7 linked regions of the Homo sapiens genome follow. The protein of the gene in region 1 purifies or fractionates together with the protein of each later gene. This does not show direct contact. Each region holds a gene or a part of one and is shown in the gene's direction. Other genes may lie near its edges.

What was found.
Region 2: the proteins of DENND2D (region 1) and GRPEL1 purify together in Homo sapiens (affinity purification with mass spectrometry; 3 studies listed by BioGRID and IntAct, with this or other methods). This does not show direct contact.
Region 3: the proteins of DENND2D (region 1) and COIL purify together in Homo sapiens (affinity purification with mass spectrometry, with the first as the bait; one large-scale study listed by BioGRID). This does not show direct contact.
Region 4: the proteins of DENND2D (region 1) and RTF1 purify together in Homo sapiens (affinity purification with mass spectrometry; 3 studies listed by BioGRID and IntAct, with this or other methods). This does not show direct contact.
Region 5: the proteins of DENND2D (region 1) and TPP2 purify together in Homo sapiens (affinity purification with mass spectrometry; 3 studies listed by BioGRID and IntAct, with this or other methods). This does not show direct contact.
Region 6: the proteins of DENND2D (region 1) and NOLC1 purify together in Homo sapiens (affinity purification with mass spectrometry; 3 studies listed by BioGRID and IntAct, with this or other methods). This does not show direct contact.
Region 7: the proteins of DENND2D (region 1) and CWC22 purify together in Homo sapiens (affinity purification with mass spectrometry; 3 studies listed by BioGRID and IntAct, with this or other methods). This does not show direct contact.

The regions. Positions count from the first base shown.
Region 1 is NC_000001.11:111,190,647-111,194,146, reverse strand, and holds part of DENND2D (DENN domain-containing protein 2D), read left to right. Parts: intron 1-1,829; coding exon 1,830-2,007; intron 2,008-3,081; coding exon of another isoform or gene 3,082-3,140; intron 3,141-3,500. UniProt on the Homo sapiens protein: Guanine nucleotide exchange factor (GEF) which may activate RAB9A and RAB9B. Promotes the exchange of GDP to GTP, converting inactive GDP-bound Rab proteins into their active GTP-bound form.
Region 2 is NC_000004.12:7,065,265-7,069,395, reverse strand, and holds the start of GRPEL1 (grpE protein homolog 1, mitochondrial precursor), read left to right. Parts: upstream 1-1,331; 5' UTR 1,332-1,363; coding exon 1,364-1,425; intron 1,426-2,769; exon of another isoform or gene 2,770-3,216; intron 3,217-4,131. UniProt on the Homo sapiens protein: Essential component of the PAM complex, a complex required for the translocation of transit peptide-containing proteins from the inner membrane into the mitochondrial matrix in an ATP-dependent manner.
Region 3 is NC_000017.11:56,954,551-56,958,050, reverse strand, and holds part of COIL (coilin), read left to right. Parts: intron 1-3,500. UniProt on the Homo sapiens protein: Component of nuclear coiled bodies, also known as Cajal bodies or CBs, which are involved in the modification and assembly of nucleoplasmic snRNPs.
Region 4 is NC_000015.10:41,462,095-41,465,594, forward strand, and holds part of RTF1 (RNA polymerase-associated protein RTF1 homolog), read left to right. Parts: intron 1-2,676; coding exon 2,677-2,791; intron 2,792-3,500. UniProt on the Homo sapiens protein: Component of the PAF1 complex (PAF1C) which has multiple functions during transcription by RNA polymerase II and is implicated in regulation of development and maintenance of embryonic stem cell pluripotency.
Region 5 is NC_000013.11:102,603,486-102,606,985, forward strand, and holds part of TPP2 (tripeptidyl-peptidase 2), read left to right. Parts: intron 1-1,307; coding exon 1,308-1,436; intron 1,437-3,500. UniProt on the Homo sapiens protein: Cytosolic tripeptidyl-peptidase that releases N-terminal tripeptides from polypeptides and is a component of the proteolytic cascade acting downstream of the 26S proteasome in the ubiquitin-proteasome pathway.
Region 6 is NC_000010.11:102,155,389-102,158,888, forward strand, and holds part of NOLC1 (nucleolar and coiled-body phosphoprotein 1), read left to right. Parts: intron 1-1,630; coding exon 1,631-1,686; intron 1,687-1,797; coding exon of another isoform or gene 1,798-1,800; coding exon 1,801-1,940; intron 1,941-2,042; coding exon 2,043-2,167; intron 2,168-2,660; coding exon 2,661-2,826; intron 2,827-3,500. UniProt on the Homo sapiens protein: Nucleolar protein that acts as a regulator of RNA polymerase I by connecting RNA polymerase I with enzymes responsible for ribosomal processing and modification.
Region 7 is NC_000002.12:179,972,798-179,976,297, reverse strand, and holds part of CWC22 (pre-mRNA-splicing factor CWC22 homolog), read left to right. Parts: intron 1-2,495; coding exon 2,496-2,664; intron 2,665-3,051; coding exon 3,052-3,105; intron 3,106-3,500. UniProt on the Homo sapiens protein: Required for pre-mRNA splicing as component of the spliceosome. As a component of the minor spliceosome, involved in the splicing of U12-type introns in pre-mRNAs. Promotes exon-junction complex (EJC) assembly.

The DNA.
Region 1 (3,500 bases):
ACCTGAAGGGGATGCGGAATTACATACTGGTTGAAAGCACAGGGATTGAAATCAGCAGAATTAGGAGGTTTAAATCCAGTTCTTCTACCTTTAGCTATGAGGTTCCCATTAAGTTAGTTTGTTAACTTCTTAAAAATGGAAATAATGATTGTGATTACCTCATAAGGTTGTGGTGAGGATTAAATGAAATAATGCACATTAGGTACCTAACACCCTGCTGAGCACATATTGCTGAGTGCTAGCTTCTGTTCTTAAGTTCACAGTTGAGTATATCCCTGTGTATAGTGGAAGCAGGGTACTATTGTGCCATGGTCTCTACCTTTTAGGGGCTTCAGATCTGAGAAGGACGTGGGGAGATGTAATAGAATGGAGAATGAAAGAAGTCATAAAACAGTAGGGGTAGGGGTAGACCTTCTATTCATATCTGGGGAGGGAGAAAACCAGTGATTTTAGGTTGACAACCCTGCTTTTATCTTTTAGGGAAGAAGAAAAGGATGTTAGGGACTCAACAGAAGTCAGAGGGGCAGGTGAATGCCATGGGTTTCAGAGGAAAGGAAACTTGGGCAAGCAGTGGGGTCTCTGTGTTGAAGATTCTGTAAAAATGGGTGATAACCAAAGAGGAACTAGTTGTAGGTAATCCTTGAAGGGAGTGGCATCATCTTTTGCTTTGGAAATAGCTCTTTCACTCCCAGCCTTGAATGGAAACCAGAAATTCCTGTGTGGCTAGAGCTGGGATTCTGCCTTTCCTCCTCAGATCAGTGTTTGGGAAGTGGAGGTCGGCAGGATTCACCTCTCAGACGTTTACTTTCTTCAGGGAAATCCCACCACTCCCCACTTCCTTCCCACACTGAGTTTTTCAGCTCCCTGAAGCTCGGACAGGGAGGGGACTTCCAGTCAGCTAGCCTCTCAGAGACTCAATTTTGCTAATTCAGGAAGTGCCAGCTTGAAACCCAGAACTGAAACAAGGATTCCCGCATCTGTGCTTTTATTGGCCTTGACTTTGAGGCAATTTGGCTGGAGTAAAGAAGAGCCATGAAAGCCAGGGGATAAAAGAGAAAGACAGAGAGTGGGACTGTGTGTATGTGGTGGCGAGAGGAGTAGGGTCCAAGTTGTGACTTGGGCAGGAGTGACGAGAAATGCTTCACTGGAAAGTCTTGAGGAGGCACCTTTGTGGGACTTTCCGTGTAGGAATTGCTGGGCAGAGGTTCCTAGAACCTGGGAATTTCCCAAGCTACTCAGGCAGCAACCTGGTAATCTTTAATAACCTCGAGTGTGCCCAGAGGGGGCTGTGTGGGGGCAAAGGCTGGGGATGAGGGTGGATAGACATAGCGAGGTAAAAAGGCTTTGCCTCTCGGCTGAGCCTCCAGTGCTTGTTTACATGTTTGTCTCTTAACTACACTGTGAATTCCTTAAAAGCAGGGTCAGTGTCTTACTCTTCCTGGTATCCACATCTGTGAGGTATGCTCACAGTTGTGAGCACAGGCTAGGGGCTCAATCAATTATCTCCTTGAATGAAAGCAACTCTTCTTCCCTCTTCTCTTCAGAGTCACTTTTATTTTTGGCCAGTAGTAAGTTGAGAAGACTAACTGGGAAAAGAAGGGTCAAATCAAGGCCCTTCTTGATAGTGAAGCCTCAGACTCTCTAGTTTCTGTCCCTCCCTCCCAGCAATGTACGTTCAAGCTCTGTGACCAGCATGGCCCCCAGACTTGCCTTTCTGCCCATGGGCATGGGCAGCACTGCTCTAGCTGCTGTTGGTGGTGGGCGATGAGGGGTGTGTAGCATGGTGGTGCAGGGGCCCCCTGACTCTCATCCTCTGTGCTCTGTCCCAGCACCTTGTCTCAGTGCATCCATGCTGCTGCCGCACTGCTCTACCCCTTCAGCTGGGCGCACACCTACATCCCTGTTGTCCCTGAGAGCCTTCTGGCCACCGTCTGCTGCCCCACCCCCTTCATGGTTGGAGTACAAATGCGCTTCCAGCAGGAGGTCATGGACAGCCCTATGGAAGAGGTATGATGTGGCAAGAAGAGTGCATGATTTGGAGCCAGGTAGAGTGGGATTCAGATCCCAGCTCTGCTGCTTACAGCTGTGTGATTAGGGGCAAGTTACCTTACCTCTTTAAGCCTGAGCTTTCTCATCTCTAAAATGGGGATAACAGTGTTCACTTCCTAAGGATTCTGGGGGAAACCACCTGCCTAGAGCTCCTAACCTGGCACCCGACACACAGGTGATGCTCAATAAATGCAGGTTCCCTTCTGAAGGATTCCCCTTTAGGCATAAGGGGCAGTGGATAGCTTATTCAGGGGTGAGCAGACTGTTCTGTGCCAGCTGGCCCTAATGAGCAGTCTTCGGGGTGTCCCATCTCATCCAAATGTATGACACAGCTGGTCTATACAACACACACCCCACTGGAATGTATTTGAATTCCTTGGAATTGAGCTAACATGGCCCTCTGGCAAACTATGAGTCTTAAAAATGCAGATTTTTGCAGCAAGTCATCTTTCTGAGTAGCTCAGAGCTAAGGTGGCTAATGAGGATATAGGTCTGAATCCTCTTTGATTTTGTTAGCTTCTTACATCTTGGCAGTGCACCAGACACACCAGAGAACTCAGTTGTGAAAATGGGCATTAAAAGCGTAAATCTATCCCCGCTGTTGGAAAAATAACTCAAAACATGTGCTTTAGAGTTGTCAGTATAGGGACTTTCAAAAGATAGTATGTTACTGTATCTCAAGCCAGAAGAGGGACTTGGGAATGTCTGCCCTGGCCATAACCATTGACTCACTCCAAGAGATAACTGAGCTCCAGAGACTTATCCAAGGCCACATAGACAACAGTGGAACCTAGCACAGATAAAACCAAATCCTCTCCTATAGAAACCATTGCTGCAAAGTAAAGAAGAAGGCTGTGTTTCCCTTCTTTGCTCCACCGGCCCCCTCATCCTTCCTTAGGACTGCTGAGTACACATGCCCTTTGAACCAGCTTTAGCCTTGTGACTAACTGGGACAGAGTATTAGCCCCATGTTTAGCAATAAACATTTAAATGTTCCAACCCCAGAAATTATGAAACTTCTTGACTCTGCAGCTCCAGCTCCCTGGAAGCCGTGGCTCCTCTCCTGATGGCCAGTCAGACTCTGGCTTTTGGTAAGGGATTACTCCACAGACAATAATATGCCCAAATACTGGAAAGATTTCTGGGAACAATCTTGAAAAACAAATTATTTATACACACTCTCTCCCCCCAATCCCTCAAAGGAACAGTCTTCCCTTCATGAAGGCATCTGAGCCTATGTATACAAGTGGTTTCAGGCCTGGACTAGTTCAACTTTTCTCCCCTGATGACAGATAATTACAGTGCATGCTCTATTTTTTGGCATACTTTCCACTCTCTCCTTGTATTTGGAAGAAGGGACAATGGAGGGATCATTCTCTCTATCAAGACCAAGGGTCACAAATGGAAAAGAGAGGCCCAGCGGGCATTTAAATGACCAATACATGATTTGG
Region 2 (4,131 bases), on another chromosome or scaffold:
TGTTTGCGTCTTTCTGCAAGGGGCATATTACCTGGCAAACAGTAGGTATTAATCAGCATGGGTTGAATGGTTTCAATGGCAGAAAAGCAAAAGAATAAAGGTTTGGTCCTTTACTCAAGTGGTCCTACATTCACTAATGTAACAAGCAGGCAAAACTCCGCTTGAGAAGCCACCAGCTCGCGCCCTGGGATCCTGGGGAGGGCATGGGCTCCAGCCCTGGGATCCCGGGGAGGGCACAGGATCGAGCCCTGGGATCCCGGGGAGGGCAGGGACTCTAAGTCTGGGATCCTGGTGAGGGCACGGGCTACAGCCCTCAGATCTTGGCCGCCAGAACTGCACTCCAGGCCACGCGGTGCTGAAGCGGGAGCCAGGCCCTATCTCCTGCGGGAACCCCGCTTGGGGGCCGGCACCGGGGCCATAAGAACACGCGGCCCTCTGTTCTTGGGGGTATGCGCTACAGCAGCATGGACCTCGGTCAGGTTATGAAAACGTGTGCATTTATGAGCTTTAGTTGTGCCCCAATGTTTTCTATGCGCTGTTCTTAGTCTGTTTTTCGTGTTTTGAGAAAACTGAAGATAACAGAAAGGTACAAAACACACGCCCATATTCCCATCATCCAGCATCAAAACCGCCAACATTTCGTCCCATTTGTTTCCCGGGTTTTGTTTCCTGTTTCACCAGAAATCACTGGTGGAGACGGAGACCCCAGTGCCTTCTCTCCGCCTCGGGCGCCTGGAGAAGCAGCTTCGGGGTCGGGGCGCCCTCCCAAGCGGTTGCCTCCGCGGTTCTCAAGCAACTACGCCGCCGTTTGGGTGGCGCTCGCGCCGAGACTTCATTTTCATTTAGCAAACATGGAGTGCTCCGCGCCGCTCTGGAGCCGGGGTGTGAGGGTGAACAGGGCTCCCCACGCTCGTTCCCAGAGCAAAGGAAGGCCCGCGGTGTCAGCGCAAGGGCGGGTGCGGGCCGGGAAACGACAAGCTGCCGCCTCACTCCTACCCAAAACCAGGCTCTGAAGTCCCTCCCGGCCCGCGACGCGCGCGCCCCACCCCGGCGCTGGCCCCGCCCCCTCACGCTGCCTCCTCATTGGCTCCTCCCGGCATCGCCACGCCCACAGGAGGCTCCTCCCAATGCTCACTTCACCTTTCACCTCTTCAGGGCCTCCGGTACGCCTCAGGCCCCGCCCACCGGGGGGTGGGGAAAGATGCTCTTCCGTGACCCACAATTATTGGTGACTATTGCCTGTCCATAACAGGAAAAGCGATTACGGATTGGCTGAGGCGAAGTAGTAGGGCAGAAAAGTGGGTATAGCTGCCTGCACGCACGCTTGGTGCGTGCGCGGCGACTGCGACGGGCAGTGGCAGTCATGGCGGCTCAGTGCGTGAGGTTGGCGCGGCGCAGTCTTCCTGCTTTGGCGTTGTCTCTCAGGTAAGGGGCACTTGGTCTCCCTGGGTGGAGGTGGCAGCGCGACCTCCCGCTCCGATGGGGGCCTTTCCCGGCCCCGGGGCCTCCTTCCCGGCCTCGGCCCCGGAGCTGGGCATCTCCGGGCTCGCGGTTCCCCGCCGCGGGACGCGGACCGCCCCGCTGGGGCCTGCTCTGCTGCCAGGCTGCCAGCTCAGGGCTTGGGAAGCGTGGAGCGGGCGGGCGCCGTGTCAGGAGGAGAGGACCGCAGCGCGGGGGGCGTTTGGCTCGGAAGGTACGGTGGCCCACGTGCGCGTGTGGTCCAGGGCCTGCGGCGACGCCTCGCGCGCATTCACGGTCTCGGCGCTCACGGGCGCAGAGGCAGCCGCAACTTGTGCGGTTGAAGAAGCGACCAAAGAAGCTCGAGCTTTGTCCAAGGTCACGCAGCGAGGCCGAGCCGGGCCGGGTGTGCCCTGGGCAGGAGCTGTGGTTACTCATTTCCGTGCCGCAGCTCGAGGCCGGGGCCACAGCGGTGCTCGGGAAACTTCGTGTCGCAAGGTGCGTGTTGCCCGTTCACGGGCTTTTTCCACTCGACCTCGAATTCCTTCACTCCGCCTTCTCCAGCGTCTGAGGTCAAAAGAGCAGTCGAACCTGTGCTGCTGCTGGGCGAAGAGTTTGTTTAGACAAGGGCACATTTCGGGCCTGAGGGCCACGAGACAGTGCCCCTTTTTTTTTTTCCCCTCAAATCTGCCCCTTCTGCTTTTTGAAAGTTCTACTTTAGAAGTTAGTATGGCAAGTACTTGCTGGAGGAAGTGCCTAGAACCAAGTTATTGATTAGAGAAGCCACTGAGGGCCAAATTGGCCAAAAGCTGGGCAGTGAGATGTAGTTCTTTCCTGAAGGAGAGCAGGCAGGTGAGGTGAAGATCACTTTCAGTCTAGGTGATTAAGGGGTAAGTGCTAGCTTAATAAATTATATCTTAACAACACAGGAGCCAAGAGCAACGACCCACGTGGAATACTTGAGTAAAAAGACTTTGGTCAAGTAATTGGTGGTTTTGTATTGGAATTAATTGCCAGGAAAGTGACCACCAAGTCAGCATCATTTCTGTCTCTAGAATGGTAGTTTTGTGGAAAGATGCTCAACTAGGGAAAGGCAGGAGAACTGACTGGTAGTCATAGCTCTCAGAGTAACTAGGCTTTCTGAGACTCAGTTTCCCTCTGCAGAACGAGATGGCCCCGGGTGTGGGTCCTGTTGCACATTCCTGGCCACACTTTGTGTTGGCTGTGCTTCGGAAAGGGGTCTGTGAAGAGCTGACCTGCAGAAAGGCTGGTGGCTGTCACACCCCCAGGCAGAACAACTGGAGAGGAAGGTGGGCTTCACAACAGTACACTCAGTTTTTATTTAAATTCTTAGCTTTTTAAATTCACAAGAGTAAAAATATAAAATGGTCATCGCTCTCCACCCCCATGGCAAGACTGTAATGGAGGCTTCCACTCCACTTCTTTCCACAGATCTAAGATATTAATAAGTACACAGGATTTCTAGTTTGTCTTTACAAAAATAGGATCCTGTTTTGTGTATTTCTCTGTAAGTTGCATTTCTTAACAGAACATCCAAAGTGTATCCAATAAATGGCAGTTTAACTCATTTTTAGGAGCTGCATAATATTCCAGATTGTGTTAGCAAGTTTATTCAACCATTTGCTCGCTGACAAACATTGTTTCCAACTTGTCGCTCGCAGTGCTGCAATAAACAGCCTTGACTGAGTTCTGTGTGCTGGCAGCCTTCACCTTCCTATTCGTTGAAGCAGTTTTAATCTGGGAAGAAAATTGAATGTAGCTTATTCTCAGATAGGACTGTGGCCTAATTTAAAAAGAGGTCCTGGCCGGGTGCGGGCGGATCACGAGGTCAGGAGATCCTAGACCATCCTGGCTAACACAGTGAAACCCCGTCTCTACTAAAAAAATACAAAAAAATTAGCCGAGCGTGTTGGTGGACGCCTATAGTCCCAGCTACTCGGCAGGCTGAGGCAGGAGAATGGCGTGAACCCGGGCGGCGGAGCTTGCAGTGAGCCGAGATGGCACCACTGCACTCCAGCCTGGGTGACAGAGCAAGACTCCGTCTCAAAAAAAAAAAAAAAGAGGTCCTCTGGTCCTGGTGAAGAAATCTAGGTTTTAAGACTTTATTTTATCATTCGTTGATGGCTTTGTGACCTGGGCTTATCACTTGGTCTTGGTCTATTTCACCGGTACATATCCCATGCTTTCCTGTCTTCATGCCTTTGTCCAAGCAGTTTCATCTTCCTGAAGCTGCATCTATCCCATTGTCCCACCTCTGATCCCTTTTTCGTAACTCTTACCTATCCTACAAAGCCTTTCATGGTTTTCCATTCCCCAAGCTAGGTATCTCCTTCTACTCTGAGCCTCCCAAAGCACAAAGCACTTAGTTCCCTTTTTTTTTTTAATCACTTTTTTTTTTTTTTGAGACAGAGTTTCCCTCTTGTCGCCCAGGCTGGAGTGCAGTGGCGCGATCTCAGCTCACCTCAACCTGCGCCTCCCTGATTCAAGCGATTTTCCTGCCTCAGCCTCCCAAGTAGCTGGGATTACAGGCATGCACCACCACGCCAGGCTAATTTTGTATTTTTAGAAGAGACGGGGTTTCTCCATGTTGGTCAGGCTGGTCCCGAACTCCTGATCTCAAGTGATCCACCTGCTTTGGCCTCCCTAAGTGCT
Region 3 (3,500 bases), on another chromosome or scaffold:
CATTCTGTTGGGATCATTGGCAGTACTGAGAAGGCTAATGAGGAAAAGTGGAACTAGGTTGTGGGAATCCTGAGAAACAGCCTTTGAGGCTTTGGATGCACCACACACTTGTGTTCCACTGCTGTTTCCTCATAGCCCATTCTCTTAAGCCCCAGGAATCTGGCTTCATCTGCCCCCAGGTTTCTGACAGCGAGTTCCTAAAGGTGGTCTCTAACTGTCCTGGGAGGAGGAGGAGGTGCTTCTATTGGCTTGGAGCCCCCTGTGTTAGTTTGCTGGGGCTGCTATAACAAAATACCACAGACTGTATGGCTTAAAAAATGGAAATTTATTTCTTACTCTTCTGGAGACTACAAGTCCAAGATCAGGGTGTTGGCAGATTTGGTTTTTTTATTTTATTTTAATTAATTAATTAATTTATTTATTTTTCTTGAGACAGAGTCTCACTCTGTTGCCCAGGCTGGAGTGCAGTGGCACGATCTTGGCTCACTGCAACATCTGCCTCCCAGGTTCAAGCGATTCTCCTGCCTCAGCCTCCCGAGTAGCTAGGATTACAGGCACCCGCCACCATGCCAGGCTAATTTTTTTGTATTTTTAGTAGAGATGGGGTTTCACCATGTTGGCCAGGCTGGTCTCGAACTTGTGACCTCAAGTGATTTGCCCTCCTCAGCTTCCCAAAGTGCTGGGATTACAGGAGTGAGCAACTGTGTCTGGCGGTTTTTAATTTTTTTTAATTAATTTTTAAATTTTTTTTAATCGTGCAGCCCTCAGAATTACAGTAGATTCAGAGAGACTCCCTTATTTTTTGAGACAGGGTCTCACTCCATTGCCCAGGCTGGAGTGCAGTGGCGCAACCTTGGCTTATACAGCCTCGAACTCCTGAGCTCAAGGGCTCCTCCTGCCTCAGCCTTTTGAGTAGCTGGGACTACAGGTGCAGTTTTTTATTTTTAGTAGAGAGGTCTCACTAAGTTGCCCAGGCTGGTCTCAAACTCCTGGGCTCAAGTAGTCCTCCCGCCTTGGCCTCCCAAAGTGTTGGGACTACAAGCCTGAGCCACTGCCCCCGGCCTGAGAAACTCCCTTTTGAAGAATCAATTCTGTAAGGAAACAGTGCATTCTGTCTTCCCTGACCCTTTTAACTCTGGCAATTAATACTTGATGAAGGCTGGGCGCCATGTCTCATGCCTATAATCCAGCACTTTGGGAGGCTGAGGCAGGCAGATTGCCTGAGCTCAGGAGTTCGAGACCAGCCTCGACAACATGGTGAAACCCCATGTCTACAGAAAAATACAACAAAATTAGCTGGGCATGGTGGCACATGCCTGTAGTCCCAGCTGCTTGAGGGGCTGAGGTGGGAGGATCATTTAAGCCTGGGAAGTAAAGGCTTCGGTGAGTTGAGATGGTGCCACTGCGCTGCAGCCTGGGCGACAGAGTGAGACCCTACCTCAAAAAACAAACAAACAAACGAACAAAAAAACACATTGATTAAATGTTAGAGATGGGCCAGGCATGTTGGCTTATGCCTGTGATACCAACACTTTGGGAGGCCGAGGTGGGAGGATCACTTGAGTCCAGGAGTTTGTGAGCAGCCTGGGCAACACAGGGAGACCCTTATTCTACCAAAAAAACCCCAAAAAACAAACAAAAAAAATTAGCTAGGCTCAGTGATGGATGCCTGTAGTCCCAGCTAGTTGGGAGGCTTAGGTGAGAGGATCACTTGAGCCTCAGAAGTTGAGGCTGCAGTGAGCCATGATCGTGTCACTCCACTCCAGACTGGGCAGCAGAGCAAGACCGCATCTCAAACAAAACAAAATATTAGAGACGAGTTCTCATTTCATATTGCTGTAGTTAGTGGCTCCTTGGATAGTCCAAGATAAAAAGTTTCCTACTACTTTTATCATATACTTTTTCCCACACCTCACTCTCCAGAAGTATCCTTGGTTAAGTTTGGGGTATGGGGTATATCTTAGAGCCAGATTTCTATACATGTGCAACCATATGTACTTATACTTTTAAACTACAAATATCATAACATACTGTTCTGCACCTTGCTTTTTTACCTATCATGGGCTATCTCAGTATATAAAGTGTGTGATGTATGTCATTCTTTTCTGTTTGCTACATAGTGCTTTAGTGAATATTCTTGTATTTTTTTTGTACTTGGAAAATTATTCAGTTGGATTTATTCTTAGAAGAAATACTCATTGGTCTAAGAGAAGGTACATATAAAAATTGATAAGTACTGTCAAATTAGCTTCCAGAAAAGTTGTACAGACTTGTACAACTTTTAAAAATTCACCAACTTACCCATGATAGGACTAACAACATTCATTGTACTAATAAAAATTAGAGCTAACATTTGGATATCACTTGTTCTGAGTCAGGCATGCTCTCTCTGCATAATAAGTCACTGAGTACTGTAATTATTGTCATTATCCCCATTTTTATAGATGAGAAAGGCTGAGGTAATGATTTTAAAAAAAATTACAGTGGCAGAAATAGCATTTGAACCCAGGCATTCACGTTGGCCTTGGCAGGCAATGGGTAGGGAGCATCAGGTTGGACAGATGGGCATGTCAGTGTTTCTGCATAACAGAATCCTAGACAGTAAATTGTAGATTTTAAGGGTGGACTTAGATTTTGATAATACCACTCAGTTTGCCTTGCAAAGAGTTAGAATGAAAAGTGGGGATAGCTGGGCATGGTGGCTCACGCCTGTAATGCTAACACTTTTGGGAGGCCGAGGCGGGCGAATCAGCTGAGGTCAGTTCGAGACCAGCCTGACCAACGTGGCAAAACCCCATCTCTACTAAAAATACAAAAAGTTAGCCAGGCGTGGTGGCAGGCACCTGGAATCCCAGCTACTTGGGAGGCTGAGGCAGGAGAATCGCTTGAACCCAAGGGGAGGAGGTTGCAGAGAGCCCAGATCATGCCACTGCAGTCCAGCCTGGGCGACAGAGCAAAATTCCATCTCGAAAAAAGAAAAGTGGGGATCTGTTTTTTGGAATCAACTCTTTCGTCACTAGTGACCTAGGTAATTCACTTCTACTTGTGAAAGGACAAATGCATGCACTTTTGTTTGTAAAAGGATAGCTCTATTCTTTGTCTGTGATCCAGGTAAAGAAATAGAGAATATTGCCAGGGAAGGTGCACCTGACAGGAATGGTAACTAAGCAGACCCAGGAGAACCATTTCTTTTTCTCTGGATGGTATTTTGCCTCTCAATCTTAATATTTTCTTTTTTTTTTTCTTCCCAGATGAGGGCTCACTGTGTTGCCCAGGCTAGTTTTGAACTCCTGGGTTCAAGTGATCTTCCCTCTGCCTCCTGAGTAGCTGGGATTACAGGCATGTGCCACCACACCAGTTTATAATCTTAATATTTTAAAAACTGAAATTATTCTCTTGGGGAACAGTAGGTAGTGGGGCTGCAGGAATCACAGGTCATACCTTCAAGCCAAATAGCTGTAGATGCATGGTCTTTTTTTTTTTATTTTTTGGAGACAGAG
Region 4 (3,500 bases), on another chromosome or scaffold:
GCTGATTATTAAGACAGAGGTTCAGAGCCATCATAGAAAATTGATATTTTAGTAGTTCGTTTGTTTAGCTTCAGGGCAGTGCAATATGGAAACTCTGGAATTTCCTGAATCTTTTTTACTTTAAAAGCTCTTTATATGGATTGCATTTAATCTTTGTAGTCTTTTTTATGTAAGCACCATTAGCATCCTGTTCTCTAGCCAGCAGCACCAGTAGTGAGATGTCATTTTCAGTTGTTAGATTATTCATGGGGGCAGGAAGCATAAAAGGTAGCCTGGTTGTAGAAAGGGCACTGACATTGCAGTTAGAAGGTCTAGGGGTCAAGTCAGACTCGCTGGAGGGGTGATCGGAGTTAAATCACTTTCTCTTCCTGCCTCAGCTTCCTCCTGGGGGTTGTTGTAAACCTCAAGAGAGATTATATACATAAGAACATTATGTAAATGTAAACTATCACTAACTCTAAAAAATAACTTTGTTTAAAATAACCCACTTAAAGTGTATAATTCATTGGTTTTTATATGTCCACAGAGTTGTGCAATCATCACCACAATTAATTCTAGAGCATTTTGTCACTCCTGTATTTCCCCATAAGCCTCCCAGCCCTAGGCAACCACTAATCTCCTTTCTGTCTCTCTAGATTTGCCTATTCTGGATATGTTTATTATTATTGTTGTTGTTATCAAGACAGGGTCTCGTTCTGTCACCCAGGCTGGAGTGCTGTGGCATGATTATAGCTCATTGAAGCCTCGACCTCCTGTGTTCAAGCAATCCTCCCACCTCAGCCTCCCAAGTAGCTGGGACTATAGGCGTGTGCCACCACCTGGCCAATTTTTTAAACTTTTATTAAAGAAGAGGTCTCGCTATGTTGTCCAGGCTATTCTTGAACTCCTAGCCTCAAGCAGTCCTCCTGCCTTGGCCTCCCAAAGTGTTTAGATTACAGGCATTAGCCACCATGGCCGACCTGGATATTTTATATAAATGAAATCATAATATGTAGTCTTTTGTGACTGACTTCTTTCACTTAGTATGTTTTTGAGGTTTATCCATTTAGCATGTATTAGTACTTCACTCCTTTTTATGTCTGAGTAATATTCCATTTTATGTATATACCACATTTTGTTTATCTGTCCATCTGTTGATTTATATTTGTGGTGTTTCCTCCTTTTTGCTATTGTGACTGGTGCTGCTGTGAACGTTTATATACAACAATTTGAGTACCTATTTTCAGTTCTTTTGAGTGTATACTGGAAAGTAGAATTGCTGGCTGGTACGGTAACTCTTTCTAACTTTTTGAGAAACTGCAGCTGCATCATTTTAGATTTCCCATCGGCAATAAGTGTACTAGTTTCTCCACCTCTTCACTAACACTTTAACACTTGTCTTTTCCTTTTTTTGTTGTTGTTGAGACAGGGTCTCACTCTGTCGCCCAGGCTAGCTAGAGTTCAGTGGTATGATCATGGCTGGCTGCAGCCTCAATCTCCTGGGCTCAAGCAGTTCTCCCACCTCAGCCTGCCAAGTAGCTGGGACTACAAGCATGTACCACCATGTCCAGCCAATTTTTAAAATTTTTGTAGAGACAGGGTCTCACCATGTTGTCCAGGCTAGTCTCCAACTCCTGGACTCAAGTGATCCTCCTGCCTTGGCCTCCCAAAGTACTGGAATTACAGGTGTGAGCCACCGTGCCTGGCCTCCCTTTTTGTGATAATAGCTATCCTGGTGGGTGTGAAATGGTCTTTCATTGTGTGTTTTTTGTTGTTGTTTGTTTGTTGTTTGTTTTCAAGACGGAGTCTCACTCTGTCGCCAGGCTGGAGTGCAGTGGCGTGATCTTGGCTCACTGCAACCTCCGACTCCTGGGTTCAAGCAATTCTTCTGCCTCAGCCTCCCGAGTAGCTGGGATTACAGGCACATGCCACCATGCCCAGCTAATTTTTGTATTTTTAGTGGAGATGGGGTTTCACCATTTTGGCCAGGATGGTCTCAATCTCCTGACCTCGTGATCCGTCCACCTTGGTTTCCCAAAGTGCTGGGATTACAGGTGTGAGCCACTGCACCGGGCCTGTTTGTTTGTTTGTTTATTTTTTGAGATGGAATCTCACTCTGTCGCCCAGGCTAGAGTGGCGCAGATGAGTACAGCAATACCCTATATATGTTCTCTTTCTCTCTCTTTTTTTTTTTTTGAAACGGATTCTTGCTCTGTCGCTAGGCTGGAGTGCAGTGGCGCGATCTTGGCTCATTGCAACCTCCCTCCCGGATTAAAGCGATTCTCCTGCCTCAGCCTCCCAAGTAGCTGGGACTACAAGTGTGCGCCACCATGCCCAGCTAATTTTTGTATTTTTAGTAGAGACGGGGTTTCACCATGTTGGCCAGGATGGTCTCGATCTCTTGATCCCCCCGCCTCGGCCTCCCAAAATGCTGGGATTACAGGTGTGAGCCCCTGTGCCTGGCCCGTAGTCTCTCATTTTAAACATATTCCAACTTAATGCTATCAAATATTTTATATTTTGTTGTAATTAACATATTAAATATTTTTAATGTACTTAAAAGGTACACCAGAGTTTCTTGCAGGAAAGCCAAAATATCTATTAGCTCCTTTCCCTTAGTTCCTTTCTCCTATCTAATAGAAATCAGTTTTTATATACATTTCATTGCTACTTAAAAACCAAATATCTTTTAACCAGATTTGAAATCAAGAAAAAACTAAAAACAGCCAAAAAGAAAGAAAAGAAAGAAAAGAAGAAAAAGCAAGAAGAGGAGCAAGAAAAGAAAAAACTGACACAGATTCAAGAATCTCAGGTAGGAGATTCAGTGTTCCTCATTGTCCAAAGAATAAACCTGTTTTGAGTGTGTGTGTGTGTGTGTGTGTGTGTGTGTGTGTAAAAGGTGGATTTATATTAATCAGCCTAAGTTTATAAGACTTGTGACATGGTTTCATTAATCTCTGGACATATCACCATTAGCTGTGCTGTTAAATCCTTAGCACTTTTTCCTTTGCTTTCCTTTTTCCTTTTCTTTTTTCTTTCTTCTTTCTTTTTCCCTTTTCTTCCCCTCCCTTCCTCCTTCCCCCTTCCCTTCCTCCTTCCCTTCCTCTTCCCTTTCCCTGGTCTCATTATGTTGCCCGGGCTAGAATACAGTGGCTATTCACTGGCACAGTCATAACACACTGAAGCCTCAAACTCCTAGTCTCAAGCAGTCCTCCTGAGTTGCTGAGACTACAGGCATATGCTACCGTGCCCGGCTTTCACTGAAGTCTGCATTTAAAAAGCAGCCCTCAACTGCAGTGACTCACATGTGTAATCCCAGCACTTTGAGAGGCCGAGGCAGACAGATCACTCAAGGCCAGGAGTTTGAGACCAGCCTGGCCAACGTGGCGAAATCCTGTCTCTACTAAAAATACAAAAATTAGCCTGGCGTGGTGGCTTATGCCTTTAATCCCAGCTACTCGGGGGGCTGAGGCACAAGAATTGCTTGAACCTCAGAAGCGGAGGTTGCAGTGAGCTGAGAT
Region 5 (3,500 bases), on another chromosome or scaffold:
TGGAACAACTGAAGAGATAAAGAATTCTAGGCAGAAGGAACCTGTTTAAAAAGTCATGAGGCAGGAAAAAGTTTGGCATGTTTCAGGAATTGAAAGGAGGTTGGCGTGGTTAGACTCCTGAGTAACGGGGTGGCAGGGGTCAGATGGTGCGAGGCTTTTTATGCGAGTATTCTGAGTGCTCCATGAATACATTGATGGGCTTAAAGGAGAGGACTGATAAAATACAGCTTGTTTTAATACAGGTTGAGTATCGCAAATTCGAAAGTCTCCAATGAACATGTCCTTTGAACTTCATGTCCATGATTTTGGAGCATTTGGAATTTTCAGGTTAGGGTCACTCAGCCTGTATTACTTTTGATGGGGCCAAGAGTGGAAACTGAGGGACCACTTAGGTAATTCACCTCATGGAGGCAAGAGATGGTGGTGGTTTGGAAAGTTAGGATAGTGGTAGTGAAAATGCAATGGATTTGAGCTCTCTTCTAGACAAAGAATTAACAGGATTTCCTGTTAGCTTCGCTGTGAGGAGTCAACTGAAGTAAAGAATCAGAGGAGGATTGTTAAGTTTCCAGTGTGAACAGCTGGGCGTGGGGATTCCTGGGATGGCAAAGCCTGGAGAAAATCAGGTGGTGGGGGGCATGTTAAGCTTGAACTTTGTTGCGTTTGAGGTGCTAGTGTGGCATCCAATAATGGTGCCATTAAATGGTACCATTACTACTAAACATTTTTTCCCCCTAAAGCTCTAAACTTGTCCAGCCCACAGCTCACCATCTTTAGATCTTTTCTCAAATGTTACCATCTCAGCAAGGCCTTCCTTGACCAGCCAAACTTATGTTGAAAACCCCACACTGACCATCTCCCTTCCCTGCTTAATTTTTCTCCATAGTTAATTTTCACCATCTGACATGTTCTTTTTTTTCCCTAATACCCAGTGTGATAGCACATCTGACATGTTCTTTATTTTACTTTGTTATTAACTGAACTGCTTTCTCGCTATAAGATCGTCAGGGATTTTTGCGTATGGATCACTGCCATATCCCCAGCACCTAAAATAGGGTGTGGTCTATAGTAAATGCTCAGTAAATATTTGTTTATTGAATATATGAAACGACTTGAAGGATTCTGTAGTGTTTCCACGATTAAATTTTCTTACTAGTATTTGTTCAGGCTTTTGGCTTAAAACAGTTCAGTTCTCTTTTTTAAGTGAATGTAGATTTTGTATATACACACACATATATATGTGGATTTGCATTGTTTAGGAATAAAAACCTAAAATCTACCATTCATATTTTAATTTTCTTAATTTTCAGGTTACAACTGATGGAAAACCAAAAATCGTTGATATCATTGATACAACAGGAAGTGGCGATGTGAATACTGCTACAGAAGTAGAGCCAAAGGATGGTGAGATTGTTGGCCTTTCAGGAAGAGTGCTTAAGGTGAGACCTTTTGTCTTCTTTTTGAATTTTTTTTTTTTTACTCTTGCCTCAAAGCATCTAATGTTTTTACCTTACATTTGGTGGTGGTATTAGTTATCCATTGCCACATATCAGATTACCTCAGAACATCCTGGTTTAAAATGACAAATATTTATTACCTCGGAGTTTCTGTGAGTCAGGAATCTGGGTGTGGCTTAACGGGGTTCCAGTCGCCCTGGAGGTTGCAAATGGTTAGCCATGGCTGTGACTTCAGCTGAAGGCTCAGCTTGGGAGAAGAAGGGGAAGTTTGTTTCCAAGCCTACTGGTGGGTCACTGGCAGGCCTTGGCTCCTTGCCATTGGGCCTCTCCGCAGTGCTGCAGTACCTGGCAGCACCTTCCCTGGGGGAGTGAGCCGAGAGAGTCCCCACGATGAAAGCCACAGGCTTTTTATAAAAGTGACCTTCTAAGGGACCACCTATCACTTGACTATATTGAGCTCATTGGAAGTGAGTTAATAAATCTAGCACACACTTAAGGGGAAGGGATTTCACAAGAAATGAATCATTGGAGCTGTCTTAGAAGAAGCCATTATTTTGTTGTTTGATGAGGTAATTAGAATTGGGCGGTATTTTTCAGTGAGCTTGCCAAATTTTATGTTTTGAATACAAAGATAGAGAAAGTAACCACATCATAGCTTTGCCTTCATGTTTTACTGTCCCTTCATAGTATTCCCAGTTAACTTGACCATGAAGAAATACTTAGGCTATAGTAGCTGTTAACTTAAATGGCCAGCTTTGTCTTTTTTTTTTTTTTAAACTTCTTTTTTTCTTTTTTTTTTCGAGACATAGAGTCTTGCTCCGTTGCTCAGGCTAGAGTGCAGTGGTGCAATCTTGGCTCACTGCAACCTCCGCCTCCCGGGTTCTAGCAATTCTCCTGCCTCAGCCTCCCAATTAGCTGGGATTACAGGTGCCCGCCACCACGTCCAGCTAATTTTTGTATGATTAGTAGAGACAGGGTTTCACCATTTTGGCTAGGCTGGTCTCGAACTCTTGACCTTGTGATCCGCCTGTCTCAGCCTCCCAAAGTGCTGGGATTATAGGCGTGAGCCAGGGCACTCGGCCTACCAGCTTTGTCTTATTCTATGTCCTTGGTAGAAAGGCCTGGGTAAGCTAAACGTAAAAAATAATTATAAAGCAAGCACAGAGGAGCTCATGAGCTAAGGAGCATGAAGGATGGATGGCAAGAATTTGTGATCCTGTACTCTTAAGCAGCATTAGTTTGGAACATAAAATTATGGTTATTTAGTTAGCTTTTCCCACCTTTTGCCATCTATCTGAATTGTTCTTAGGTCTTGTCTTTTAAGTAAGCTTGTTGTGGCAGCATATTGGCTTTCTGTGCCGTGTAATAAAGCACCACAGACTTAGCCGCCTAAAACCTTGTGTATTCCTGTATTTATTATATCACTGATTCCATGGGGTAGGAGTCCAGGCATGGCTTTTTGTGGGTCTCTGCTCAGGGTCTCACAAGACTGCAGTCAAGATTAAAGGCTCAGCTGAGGCTCAGGCTTCTTTTCCAAGTTTACATGATTGTTGGAAAAATTCATTTCATTGCAGCTGTAAAACTCATGATAGCTTGCTTCTTCAAGGCCAGTAAGAGAATCTCTGACCTTGGTGATGACCCCAGTCTTTCTTTTAAAGAACTCACCTGATTAGTTCAGGCCCGCTGAGAATCATGTCACTTTTGATTTGCTCAGAGTCCTTAATTGCGTCTGCAAAATCCCTACACCTTCTTTACGTACCATAACGCAATCATGGGAGTGACATCTCATTATATTCACGGGTCCTGCCTTCACTTAGGGGAGGGACGTGGGTCTTCTTAGAAATCTGCCTGTCATGGGCAGATAGCAGCCATTAATAATCCAGGTTCTACTTCCTTTTCTGTGTGTTAGGAACTGATTATCTGTGTCCCCACCCCCTGCCAAAATTCATACATTGAAGCCCTATCCCTCTTTGTGTTGGTATTTGAAAGTTGGGCCTTTGGGAGGTATTTAGGGTTAGATGAGGTTATGAGTATGTGTCCCCTCAG
Region 6 (3,500 bases), on another chromosome or scaffold:
AAAAAGAGAGAGAGAGAGAGATGGAGGTCTCACTGTCTTGCCCAGGCTGGTCTTGAACTCCTGTCCTTAAGTGATCCTCCTGCCTTGGCCTGCCAAAGTGTTAGCGTACCTGCGCCCGGCCTGAATGCATTTTTTTTTTTTTTTGAGACTTACTCTGTCGCCCAGGCTGGAGTACAATGGTGTGATACTGGCTCACTGCAACCTCAGCCTCCTGGGTTAAAGCGATTCTCCTGCCTCAGCCTCCTGAGTAGCTGGGATTACAGGTGTGCACCACCATGCCCAGTTAATTTTTTGTGTTTCTGGTAGAAATGGGGTTTCACCATGTTGGCCAGGCTGGTCTCAAACTCCTGACATCATGATCTGCCTACCTCGACCTCCCATAGTGCTGGGATTACAGCAGACCTGAGCCACCGTGCCTGGCCCTTAAATGCAGTTCTTTACATTCAATACAGTACTTACTAGTCTTGTTTCTTTCTTTTTTTTTTTGAGACAGAGTCTTGGTCTGTCGCACAGGCTGGAGTGCAGTGGCGCGATCTCAGCTTACTGCACCCTCCGCCTCTGGGGTTCAAACGATTCTTCTGCCTCAGCCTCCCGAGTACCTGGGATTACAGGCGCCTGCCACCACACCCGGCTAAGAGACAGGGTTTCTCCATGTTGGCCAGGCTGGTCTTGAACTCCTGGCCTCAGGCGATCTGCCCGCCTTGGCCTCCCAGAGTGTTGGGATTATAGGCGTGAGCCACTGCATCCCGCCTGGAGGCTTATTTCTAATGATTTGGTATTATAATCCACATTGCAGGAAAAACCTTCTTGTATTAGTGTTTGTACCCTCAAGTAATGGATAAGATTACATTCTTAGATAGTACATTGCTAGAGTAAAGAGAGAGCCTTTTTTTTGGCAGAGGGGTAGAGATGGGGGTCTTGCTATGTTGCTTAGGCTGGTCTTGAACTCCTGGCATCCAGTGATCCTCCTGTCTCAGCTTCCCAAAGTGCTGAGATAACATGAGATAACAGGCATAAGCCACTGTGCCCAGTCAAAAGTGATTTTTTTTTTTTTTTGAAATGGAGTCTTGCTCTTGTTGCTCAGGCTGGAGTGCAGTGGCGCGATCTCCTAGGTTCAAGTGATTCTCCTGCTTCAGCCTTCTAGGTTCAAGCAATTCTCCTGCTTCAGCCTCCCAAGTAGCTGGGACTACAGACATCTGCCATCATGCTGGGCTAATTTTTGTTTTAGTAGAGATGGGGTTTCACCATGTTGGCCAGGCTGGTCTTGAACTCCTGACCTCTTGATCTGCCTGCCTCGGCCTCCCAAAGTGCTGGGATTACAAGCATGAGCCACCGTGACTGGCTGATTTTTTGTTTTGTTTTGTTTTAGGACTTTGATCAATATAGATTGGCAGGCAGGGGGTTAGATGGTTAGATGGTGCCGCAAACATAGGAGTAGCCCGTTTTTTACATCAGAAATTGGGAAATCCACAAATAGAATATTTTTCTCCTGATTTATGCACGTAGCAAAAGTTTTATGAAGATGTAACATTTATACCAAATTTAGTAATTATGTATGTAACAGGCCACATTTAATGAAAGCATAACCAGGATAAAATAATTTCCTTACCCAGCTCTTTTTCTTCTACAGACACAGCAGGATGCCAATGCCTCTTCCCTCTTAGACATCTATAGCTTCTGGCTCAAGTAAGCCTTTCCTGTTCCATTTTGGCTATTTTCTCCCCCAAGATAGGCTGGGCTGTGTTTCTTGGTTTGGGAAGATTCCAGTCCCCTAGAAATTGGTCCAATCTACCTCAGCAGGTCTGCCAAGGTCCCAGAGCGAAAGTTACAGGCAAATGGACCAGTGGCTAAGAAAGCTAAGAAGAAGGCCTCATCCAGTGACAGTGAGGACAGCAGCGAGGAGGAGGAGGAAGTTCAAGGGCCTCCAGCAAAGAAGGCTGGTAAGGCAGAGTAGCAGGTGGGCTTGGTGGTGCCAGGAAAAGAATTTACAGCCTGCTTGTTTCACATGGCTGATTCTTACTGGGACCTGTGTGTTTGTTCAGCTGTACCTGCCAAGCGAGTCGGTCTGCCTCCTGGGAAGGCTGCAGCCAAAGCATCAGAGAGTAGCAGCAGTGAAGAGTCCAGTGATGATGATGATGAGGAGGACCAAAAGAAACAGCCTGTCCAGGTTTGCAGCTTTGGGAAGAAAAAGGGGTTTAAGGATTAGAAAGGAAGAAACCTAAAATCTTGGCCTCTAGCTTGTAACCAAGGGGTGATGGCGGCAATACAATAGGTGATTATGAGGAAGAAAATCTGGGGATTTTCAGGGAGCTGATAAAAGTATGAGGTCTGGAAGGGATGTGTGAGGTTGAGGTCAGGCTCCGAATCTAGAGGAAATTAAACCCATTCTGCTTGAGGAGTTTGGGTTCTTCTGGGACACTATTCAGGGCTCCAAGAATAAGAGAGAGTGTTTTCCTGGGAGCTTTGGCAGGATAAGGCAGGAACAGGGCCAGTGTATCAAGTGGCTGAACTTTGTTGTTTTTTGCCCTTTCCGTATCCTGTCCTTAGCTTTCTTTTGCTCTTACTGCTCCATTAGGCCCCTAAAAATAAAAGGAACCTAGGATGCCCTTTGGGTACCCGGAAGCTTTTGCTGATTTCTCTCCTTGTGTCTTTTCTAACAGAAGGGAGTTAAGCCCCAAGCCAAGGCAGCCAAAGCTCCTCCTAAGAAGGCCAAGAGCTCTGATTCTGATTCTGACTCAAGCTCCGAGGATGAGCCACCAAAGAACCAGAAGCCAAAGATAACACCTGTGACAGTTAAAGCTCAGACTAAAGCCCCTCCCAAACCAGGTACTGTTTCTGTTCCCAAGAGGCTGGGCTGGGGACCAGATTGCTCTGGGGACTGGAGTTAAAATTGCCGATTTGGCACAGGGGTGAAATGGTACTGTTTGTTGAACTGGAGGTGTTGATTACTGGTCTTTTAATTTTAAAGGTTTTACTAATAAATAACAAGATTTCATAGGAGCTAGTAAATAGAGAAAGTTATTGCAGCAAGAAAAAATGTGTATTTTTTTTAATGGTATCCATTTGGTATTTTGTGACATTTCATAGACATTTTATGTTTTCACACATCCCATTCCACTGTAATCACTTAAATATCTATTTGTTGTGCTTTTCACTGCCATTTTTACTCTTGTATGTTCATTCTATGAGACAAATGAGAATTTTTCTTTTTTTCTGTAACTTGTGATGAGGGTTAGGTTATTTCTCTGAATGGAGGTTGAAGTGAAAGATTTTAGAGGGCGTATTGAGATTATTTATGTCATCTTTTCTAAGAAGACAGTTTTATTCCTGCCATGGGATAGGAAAGGTATCCTTTGATGTGGTAAACCATGGCTGGCATTCTCCTCGATGGCTGCTCTAAAGTTGAAAGAATTGGTGGACTCCTGGCCAGGCACAGTGGCTCACACCTATAATCCCAGCACTTTGGGAGGCTGAGGCGGGCGGATTGCTTGAGGTCAGGA
Region 7 (3,500 bases), on another chromosome or scaffold:
AGTTTCACAGTTTCAGGTCTAATGTTTAAGTCTTTAATCTGTTTTGCGTTGATGTTTGTATATGCTGTGGGACTAAGGTCTATTTTCATTCTTCTGCATCTGGGTATTCTGTTTTCTTGGCACCATTTATTGAAGACACTGTCTTTTCCCTATTGTGTCTTCTTAGCATCTTTGTCGAAAATCAGTTGACTGCCAATGTCTGGATTTATCTCTGGTTTCTTTGTTCTCTGTAGCTCTATGTGTCTGTTTTTATACTATTGTCATTCTGTTTTGATTACTATAACTTTGTAGCAGATTCCAGGTCAGGGAGTGTGATGCCTCCAGCTTTGTTCTTTTTGTTCAAGATTGCTGTGGCTATTTGGAGTTTTTTGTGGTTCCATGTGAGTTTTAGGATTGTTTTTTCTATTTCTGTGAAAAACGTAACTGGAATTTTGATAGGGATTGAGTCCAGTCTGTATGTTGCTTTGGGTACTGTGGACATTTTAACATATTATTTCAGTCCATGGACATGGGATGTCATGCATGTTCTTCCATTTTTTCATCAGCAATTTGTAGTTTTTAGTGTACAGCTCTTTCATCTCCATGGTTAGATTTATTCCTAACTTTTTTTTTCATAGCTATTGTAAATGGGATGTTTTCTTGATTTTTCAGAAAGATAGTTCATTGTAAGCATATGGAAGCACTACTGATTTTTGTATGTTGATTTTGTGTCTGCAGCTTTACTAAATTAGTTTATTAGTTCTAACAATTTTTTGGTTAAGTCTTTAGGGTTTTCTATATTAAGATCCTGTTTACAGCAAACAGGCTTCTCTATTTTTGATTTGGATACCTTTTATTTCTTTCTCTTGCCTAATGGCTCTGGCTAGGACTTCTAGTACTATGTTGAATAGAATTGGAAAGAGTAGGCACCCTTTTCTTATTCCTGATCCTAGAGGAAAAGCTTTCAGCTTGTCACCGTTGAGTATATTAGCTATGGGTTCGTCATATATGGCCTTTATTCCAATTTAATTTCTAGTGAGAGTGAAATGGGAATGTGAGAGAAATGGGAAAGATGAGCAATACATTTTAGAAAAGCAGAAGGGAATCACCGTATTCTATAAGAATATGTGGCTTTAAGCAATTGGTGATATTTAAAAGGGTCAGAAAATAGAATTACTCCATGTTGTATTTATTATTTTAAAATCTGAGGGCTGTTTTCTCATGTCATTTTACATGACTATGATTCATCTTTAAAAAAATATGGAATGTAGTGGCCAGGCACGGTCGCTGTAATCCTAGCCTGTAATCCTAGCACTTTGGGAGCCTGAGGCAAGAGGACCACTTGAGTCCAGGAGTTGCCTGGGCAACATTGTGAAAACCTGTCTCTATGAAAAATACAAAAATTAGCTGGGCGTGGTGGCACACAGTAGTCCCAGCTCCTCCGGAGGCTGAGGTGGGAGGATTGCTTGAGCCCAGGAGGCAGAGCTTCCAGTGAGCCAAGATCGCCCCACTGCACTCCTGCCTGGGTGACAGAGTGAGACCCTGTCTCTCCCCAACCTCTCCAAAAAAGGTGGGGGTATAAAGTAGGAGCAGCAAGTTTTAGAGGTAGAGAAAGTTGATCAAGAGACAGCCATTATCCTCAAAAGTGGGCAGAGATCTCTCCAATTTACTTAGAAAAAAAGTAGACTTAGAAGAGTTATGGATTGCTAAAGATACTATAATTTATAAGCTGCATCCTTTTTCTTATTTTCCACTCTAGTGATTCAGTTGTCATATCTAAAACTACCATTAAGACTTTTTTTCCTGACTTTTGGCAATCCAATAATTACTTGTCATTACATTGCTAAAAGTAACTTTAGTTTGCCCAATTTGCCTTTCCCCTTCCTCATCAAATGCATATAGAAACATGACCATTTTCAAAATGAGTTACAAGTAGGTACCTTTTAATTTCCTGTTACTGTTTTAGCATTAATCTGGCATTGCTTTTAATTCGTTTCTTTATTTCTCACAGGAGTATTCCACATCTTCATTTTATTCTACTAAAATTAGACTTAAAGATTTAAACCCAAATTTGTCTTTAATCACAAAATTAATTTTATAAAAATGACAGATCTGTAGTAGAAACTTTATGTTATCTACCTTTTATACTTTTGAAGCAGGTCTGCTTTTGTTTACTTTTTAAAAAATGTTAAAGAAATTATTTATATGAACCTTTTTAAGGTTCAAATTCATGATTAGATATAACAGACTGGGAAAAGAGGAATTATATGTAGAGAGAAAAATTTTGGTGATAAATTGCAGTAAAATCTTCATTCTATTTTACAAAATCACAAATTCACATTTCGTTTTCTGAAAAACAATTTTTATTTATTAGTAAGACAAACTCTTTCCAGTTAGTTCTGATTTAGATTTTATGATTACTTATAGAGAAATATTACTGAATTTTAATAGTTTTTGTTTCGTTTAATTAATTTGGTGATTATTGTTGACTCCTTTTTAAATTCTTTTTTAAACAGAGGACTGCTGTCCAGGTCTGTTTTGCAAGCACAGAGTGCTTCTCCAATCTTCACCCATGTTTATGCAGCATTAGTGGCAATTATCAACTCAAAATTTCCACAAATTGGAGAATTAATCCTCAAAAGGTTAATTCTTAATTTTCGAAAAGGCTATCGAAGAAATGACAAGGTATATATGAATGGCTTGTAAGTAGAATGATACATAGGAACAAACTAACAAACCAGTATCAACAAAAGTAAGCAAGGTTGATTTTGACACAGCTACATAACATAATGCTTTTTAAAAACTGTCTTTCATGAGAACTTCTTTGATCTGTTAAATATCCCTGGCCACTATTGATGAGCCACAAAAATGATGGCTATAACTGTAGAACTATAACTATTTAACCAGAAGGGATACTCTTTCATGTGTTTTATTTTGTAACTTTCTTATAATGTAAAAATTATACTTGTGTGGTACATGTTTTAAATAGATGATGTTAGTAGGCCATAGATTATGTAAATAAATGAAAATTGGGTTTAGTTTATAGGTTAACTTTCCACCTTTATTTTTCAGCAACTTTGCCTGACTGCTTCAAAATTTGTGGCGCATCTTATTAACCAAAATGTGGTAAGTAATTATCTTCAATACTTGGTCCCATTCAGTGGCATTAGACCAGAGGGTTGATGCCACTTCACTGATACCTCTCTATTTTTGCTTTGCTTTATAGTCCTTGGGATAAAAATGTTGGATGATATTTTCATTTTAAAACTATAATAAATATATTTAATGTTCTTTTTTTTTTTCTTTTTTTGAGATGGAGTCTCACTCTGTCGCCCAGGCTGGAGTGCAGTGGCACAATCTTGGCTCACTGCAAGCTCTGCCTCCTGGGTTCACACCATTCTCCTGCCTCAGCCTCCCGAGTAGCTGGGACTACGGGCACCTGCCACCACGCCCGGCTAGTTTTTTTTGTATTTTTAGTAGAGACGGGGTTTCACCATGTTAGCCAGGATGGTCTCGATCTC